Linked DNA regions of Homo sapiens. The protein of the gene in region 2 interacts with the protein of the main gene of each other region in a biochemical or structural test. Each region holds a gene or a part of one and is shown on either strand. Other genes may lie near its edges.

What was found. Proteins that work in one complex are often made in the same cells at the same time.
Region 1: the proteins of NFKBIL1 (region 2) and PEX14 interact in a test that uses a peptide from one of them, tested with the Homo sapiens proteins (one large-scale study listed by BioGRID and IntAct).

The regions. Positions count from the first base shown.
Region 1 is NC_000001.11:10,617,950-10,621,449, forward strand, and holds part of PEX14 (peroxisomal membrane protein PEX14), read left to right. Parts: intron 1-382; coding exon 383-468; intron 469-3,500. UniProt on the Homo sapiens protein: Component of the PEX13-PEX14 docking complex, a translocon channel that specifically mediates the import of peroxisomal cargo proteins bound to PEX5 receptor.
Region 2 is NC_000006.12:31,554,108-31,557,607, forward strand, and holds part of NFKBIL1 (NF-kappa-B inhibitor-like protein 1), read left to right. Parts: intron 1-3,500. UniProt on the Homo sapiens protein: Involved in the regulation of innate immune response. Acts as negative regulator of Toll-like receptor and interferon-regulatory factor (IRF) signaling pathways.

The DNA of each region.
Region 1 (3,500 bases), on a different chromosome or scaffold from region 2:
ATTTATGCTCCCCTAAACATACTCCTGTTATCCTCTCTGGATCTTTTGTTCCTGAGGTAGAGACCATGCTGTTGGTCTTCAGATCACCTCTGCCACCTGACTGCCAACTCAGGTCTCAGCTCACTGCTAGATACCTCCACCCACAGCCTGCAGTCAGGGTTGGGTGACTGGCATCCCTTGTGTCCCAGTTGAGGCAGTGGGAACAGGAGGGGTGGAGCCGGCTGCTGTTGTGATGATCATGTGCTGCCTTCCTGCGTTGGAGTGTTCCACTTGCCCATTGTTGGAGGCGAGGAGACTGTGCCACTGAGGCACCTGTGCCAGCCCCCACCCGAAGAAGGACGCCATGTGCGTCTTCTAACCCTCCTCCTCTTCCCGCCTGTAGGTCCCGCAGGCTCCCGATGGCGAGATTACGGCGCCCTGGCCATCATCATGGCAGGCATTGCATTTGGCTTTCACCAGCTCTACAAGGTGAGTCACCCCCAGCGGCTGCAGGTGCTGTGCCCCTGCCACCCTGTGGCATTCAGCACCCTTTCACTGGTTCCCCTGCATGGAGGCACTGCCGTGCTCTGCCCTGGAGTGTGTTGGCAGTGAGAGGCTGTGGTAGAGGTCGGGGTTCACAGCTGGATCCAGGCAGACCCTGCCCTGCTGTGGGGCTTGGCAGGCTCTGCCCACCTTTTCTCCAGTGCTCAGCATATACCACCCAGATCTCCACTTGCAGGGGCGTCGTGAGGTCTGTCCCTTGCCAGCCCATGTCAGGCACTTACAGTAGTGCCCGCACGGGGAAGCCGTGCGAGCAGTTTTGAGACACAGAATAACATAATGGCGAAGAGCATGGACGCTGGGCCAGCTGCTTTGCTGAGCCCTGGCTCTGCCCCTCAGGAGCTTGGTGATCACAGGCTCTGGTCTGTAAAATGGGAATAACAGTCCCCACTTCACAAGGTTGTCGTGAAGTCCGGAAGAGTCAGTCTCCCTTGTAGAGGACTCAGAGCCATGCCCGGCACATGGAAGTGCTTTATACACCATTGTTCTGCCACAGCATTTAAGAGCGGCGGTGAGAACCTCAGTGTCATCAGATGTATGGGAGCTGTTCTTTTTGCTCTGTCTGTTGTGCTGCCATCTATAGAAATCTAGGATTTCCCAGGCTTCTCAAGTCAACTTTCAGGATCCCAGGTTCATTGCTTGCAACAGAACTGCAGGCATGACGTGAACATTGACTCCCTTGTGAAGGCCCAACTTGGACGTGAAGCAAATGAGTCTAGAGTCTAGAAAATGCAGGCCAGGGTAGGTGCCCAGTCCAGATCTTGGGACCCTGTAGAGAAGCCTCTTTTCTTTCGAGGCTGCCAGCTCCTCCACCCCTGATTGGTGATTTTTTTTTTTTTTTTTTTGAGATGGAGTCTCGCTCTGTCACCTAGGCCGGAGTGCAGTGGCATGATCTCGGCTCACTGCAAGCTCCGCCTCCTGAGTTCAAGCAATTCTCCTGTCTCAGCTTCCTGAGTAGCTGGGATTATAGGCGTGCTGGTGCATGCCTGGCTAATTTTTGTACTTTTAGTAGAGATGGGGTTTCACTGTTGGCCAGGCCGGTCTCGAACTCCTGACCTCAGGTGATCCGCCCACCTCGGCCTCCCAAAGTGCCAGGATTACAGGCTTGAGCCACCGTGCCCGGCTGGTGATTTTCTTTTTTAAACAACCTGAATGAGCACTCAGACTCGCCATGGTCACTCTTAGCACATGAAACATGGTCAGCCATGGTATTCCAGATTCTTCATTTTTGATGTAATACAAAAGCTAATGACAGTTGTAGCAGAATATAATTTTTTAAGTGTAGCATGTATTCCTGGAGCTGGACATTTCCATGTTAGAAATTGAGAAACAAGGGCTGGGCGCGGTGGCTCACGCCTGTAATCCCAGCACTTTGGGAGGCTGAGGCTGAGGATCCTGACTTGATCACGAGGTCAGTAGATCGAGACCATCCTGGCTAACACGGTGAAACCCCGACTCTACTAAAAATACAAAAAATTAGCCCAGCATGGCGGCGGGCACCTGCAGTCCCAGCTACTGGGGAGGCTGAGGCAGGAGAATGGGGTGAACCTGGGAGGCGGAGCTTGCAGTAAGCCAAGATCATGCCACTGCACTCTAGCCTGGGTGACAGAGCAAGACTCCTTCTCAAAAAAGAAAAAGAAAAAGAAAAAGAAATTGAGAAACAAAACATCCTGGGTTGGCCCAGGTGCCGTGGCTCACACCTCTAATCCCAGTACTTTGGGAGGCCAGGGCAGGCAGATTGCTTGAGCCCAGAAGTTTGATATTAGCCTGGCCAACATGGTGAAACTGTGTCTCTACCAAACAATAAAATAAAATAAAATAAAATAAAATAAAATAAAATAAATAAGCTAGGCATGGTGGTGTGAGCCTGTAGTCCCAGCTATACTCGGGAGGCTGAGGGTGGTGGGAGGATCACTTGGGCTCGGGAGGTGGAGGTTGCAGTGAACTGAGATCACACTACTGCACTCCAGCCTCGGCAACAGAAGGAGACCCTGTCTCAATTTAAAAAACAAAATAAGCCAGGCGCAGTGGCTCATGCCTGTAATCCCAGGACTTTGGGAGGCTGAGGTGGGCGGATCACTTGAGGTCAGGAGTTTGAGACCAGCCTGGCCAACAAGGTGAAACCCTGTCTCTACTGATAATACAAAAATTAGCTGGGTGTCATGGCGTGCACCTGTAATCCCAGCTACTTGGGAGGCTGAGGCAGGAGAATCACTTGAGCCTGGGAGGCATAGGTTGCAGTGAGCCTGCAGTGAGCCGAGATTGTGCCACTGCACTCCAGCGTGGGTGAAAGAGCGAGACTTTGTCTCAAATAAATACATAAATAAACAGAACAGAACAAAAACACCTCTTGGGACCCGGTTCTTCTCCCTCTGAACTGGTGCCCCCTTCAAATCACTGACTGTATACAAGCACCAAGAAGAATGTGACACGAACGCCAGAGTCCTCAGATGAATGCCCTGGCTGTAATGAGCAGTAGGCACTGTCACATGGCCACCCATGGAGGGCCTGTGGCCTGACGGGAGCGGGAGGGCAGCTCGGCAGCCCGCCTTAGCGTGGGCACTCACACGGAGCTGCCACTTGTAGTTTCTACGAAGCTCTGGGCTCTCCGCTCTGTTTTAAAAAGAAAAGAAACATTGCAATATCAGTCACAATGGTAACAAGAGAATTTCTAAAGCATCTGCTCAGTTTCTCGAAATTAAAAAAAAAAAAAAAAAGAAATGGTAAAAAGCCCTCGACTGGCTTTATAAGCACGTGAAGACTTTGGCTAGGGCAGCGTGTCTGCTCCTGCCCTTAGGACTTCTGATCTCAGAAATGGGGTGTTTAGTTGGTTACACACACATATATGAATTCTTTTTTTTTTTTTTTTTTTTTTGAGACACAGTCTAACTCTGTTACCCGGGCTGGAGTGCAGTGGCATGATCTCTGCTCACTGCAGCCTCTGCCTCCCGGGTTCAAGC
Region 2 (3,500 bases):
ACTACATGAAAATTTTAGGCCGGGTGCGATAGCTCACACCTGTAATCCCACACTTTGGGATGCCAAGGTAGGCAGATCACTTGAGCCAGGAGTTCAAGACCAGCCTGAACAACACAGTGAGACCTGGTCTGTACAAAAAATACAAAATTAGCCAGGCGTGGTGGTACGTGGCTGTCGTCCTGTAGTCCCAGTTACTCAGGAGGCTGAGGTGGGAGGATCGCTTGAGCCCAGGTGGGGCAGAGTTTGCAGTGAGCAAGATCATGCCACCGCACTGCAGCCTGGGCAACAGGGTGAGACCTTGTCTCAAAAAGAAAAAAAAAGCTTTTTTAAAGATAGATAGAAGAAAATGTTTGCAATATGTATAACACATACAGTATATAGAACCCTCATATCAATATATATAATTTCCAAAGAAAAAGTGGATAAAGAATATGAGCAATTCATTCACAAAAAATACAAATAGCCAAAAGACATGAAAAAGAAAAAAACATTGTTAATAAAATAATTTTTTAATCTATCCAACTGGCAAAATTAAAAGGGTTGATGATATTCAATTTTGGTAAAGGAAGACATAGGCACACTTGTATATTGGCACAAACTTATTGAGAGCAGTTTGACCAAATTGCGCATGTCCTTTGACTCAGAAATTCCACTTATGAAAATCTACCCCCACAGAAAGACTGTAAGATACTCATGAGGCTGAACATTTTTTGAAACAAAGTCTATCGATATTGGGGTAAGGAGATTTGTTTTGTACACACAGTGGAACACTAATTATAAAGTCGTCAAAAAGTATGAGGTAGACTGTATATATTCCTGTGGAAAAATATAAATGAGATGTTAAATGAAAGAAGCAAGTTGCCAAGCAATATTTGTAGTATGGTTACATATCTCCAAATAAATGTGTCATATGTATGCTTTTAGGTACACCAAGGTGGGACTGGAAGGGATCACAGTACACTGTTAATAGTTATCAAATTTGTTCGTCCTTCTTTAAAAAGAAAATTTCAACTTAATTATATCCCTTTCACATTAAAATGTCAAATAAAATTGGGGGAAAAGCCACCTACAGCCCCACCACCCATAGGCTAGAATTTTTACATATTTTTTGCCAGTCTATTTTTTTTCTTTTTTTTTTTTTTTTTTTGAGATGGGAGTCTCCCTCTGTTGCCCAGGCTGGAGTGCACTGGCATGATCTCAGCTCACTGCAACCTCTGCCTTCCAGGTTCAAGTGATTCTCCTGACTCAGCCTCCCAAGTAGCTGGGATTACAGGCACATGCTACCACGCCTGGCTAATTTTTGTATTTTTAGTAGAGACAGGATTTCACCATGTTGGCCAGGCTGGTCTCGAACTCCTGACCTCAGGTGATCCACCCGCCTCAGCCTCCCAAAGTGCTGGGATTACAGGCCATGAGCCACCACGCCCGGCCTCTTTTTTTCCAACCATAGGATTTGGTCTCTTGTTTTAGACAGTTATTATCTGATCCTCTCTCTCTCTCTCTTTTTTTTTTTTTTTTTTTTTTTTGAGATAGAGTCTCACCCTGTCACCCAGGCTGGAATGCAGAGGCGCGATCTCGGCTCACTGCAACCTCCGCCTCCCAGGTTCAAGCAGTTCTCTGCCTCAACCTCCCAAGTAGCTGGGATTACAGGCGTCAGCCACCACGCCTGGCTAATTTTATATATAATATAAAATATAATTATATATATATTTTGTTTGTTTGTTTTAGTAAAGACGGGTTTTCACCATCTTGGCCAGGCTGGTATTGAACTCCTGACCTTGTGATCCATTGTCCCCCCCCCCCAGCCTCCCAAAGTGCTGGGATTACAGGCGTGAGCCACCGTGCCTGGCCACATCTGATCCTCTCTACAGTTTTGTAGCCAGCTTTTTTCAAACACATGCCTCAGTTGTAGTGGCTGTTTAATATTATGTTTTTATAGTTGGAGGCCCTACTCCTTAAAACCTATGAATGTAAACCTCCCATGCAAGCCTGAGCACTCACCATGCTCACCACCTGAGCTCAGGTGGGGAACAAGCGAATGAGAGACAGGACCAGGTACTTTCTGGGTGGGACAAGTTGAGAGGGTCTGTGACAGGTCACAGCAGCACTAGGGAGAAGTGCCCCCCCCCACCAACCCTGATGTGATTTGGGTAGGGATGGTGGGCCTTCGCCAGCCACACCTGGGCCATTCTGTCTTCTTGCCTTCCTGGCCTTGCCTTCCCCTATTCCAGCTTTCTGCCAGGTAAACAGTACTTTCCAGCACTACCAAATAAAGATTTAAGGACTGCTAGCCCATTTCCTCTTACCCCGGGGAAAGAAAGTAGGTCCACAGGAAGGAAGGCTGCCTCCCTCCCCTTCTTCTATCCCCCAAGTGAAAGAGGTGGTTGGTGGCCACAGCAGGTGGGCCTGGCCAGGATGCCTGGGTTGGCAGTGAAGGAAGTAGCATGGCACTCAGCTAACCTTGGGCCAGATGCAGCAAGGTTGGGACTGAAGAAAAGGGGAGTTCAGGAACGTCGGTTCCTCTCCTGTTTTCTCTCAGCCCATGGGTGAGACCCTCTGTCACACTCCACTCCCTTTCCCCTGCCCTAGGTCAGCAGTCATTTGGAAAGAGCTTGCTCTGCCGCCGGCCATAGTTGTTGCCGGTTCACCTCCCCACCCCTCTCCCATCATCCCCTGGTAAGGCTGGCTGAGAGAAATTCCCCTGAAAACATTTATTTTACTCAGTTTATTGATAAGTGATAATAAAAGATAAGTATTACATATTTGTGTATTTATTAATGGCCCAGAGTAGAGCATTCAGATATTTTCCCAGTCTGATATATGGTTTCAGGTGAGAAAATAAGGGATTTATATAGTGACAATATTTTTAAGTGAAAAGTGGAATACATAGTCAAAGAATTTGGGCACTGCCTTGGTGGCTGGAGGCAGGTCAGAAAATGTCAGTTGGCATGGTAGAACTTCTAGGACGCTGAAATAGTTTGTGGAGACACAAGTAAGAATTTTTTTTTTTTTTTTTTTGAGACGGAGTCTTGCTCTGTCACCTAGGCTGGAGTGCAGTGGCACGATCTCGGCTTACTACAAGCTCCACCTCCCGGGTTCACATCATTCTCCTGCCTCAGCCTGCCGAGTAGCTGGGACTGCAGGCGCCCGCCACCAGGCCTGGCTAATTTTTTGTATTTTTTAGTAGAGATGGGATTTCACCATGTTAGCCAGGATGGTCTTGATCTCCTGACCTCGTGATCCGCCCGCCTCGGACTCCCAAAGTGCTGGGATTACAGGCGTGAGCCACCGCGCCTGGCCGAGAATATTTTAAACTACCACACTTACCATGCATGTGGTAAACTATCAGTCTGTATTTATCAGTGATGGTTATTTCCTAATACCCAGGAGGCATCCATGTGAGCCACCCTTCCATTGCTTTAAGACCAAGGGAGCGAGTGACCAGCAGGATTCAAGATGGCAGCTCTGCCGAGGAGTGGGAGTCCCAGCTAACTTCTGCT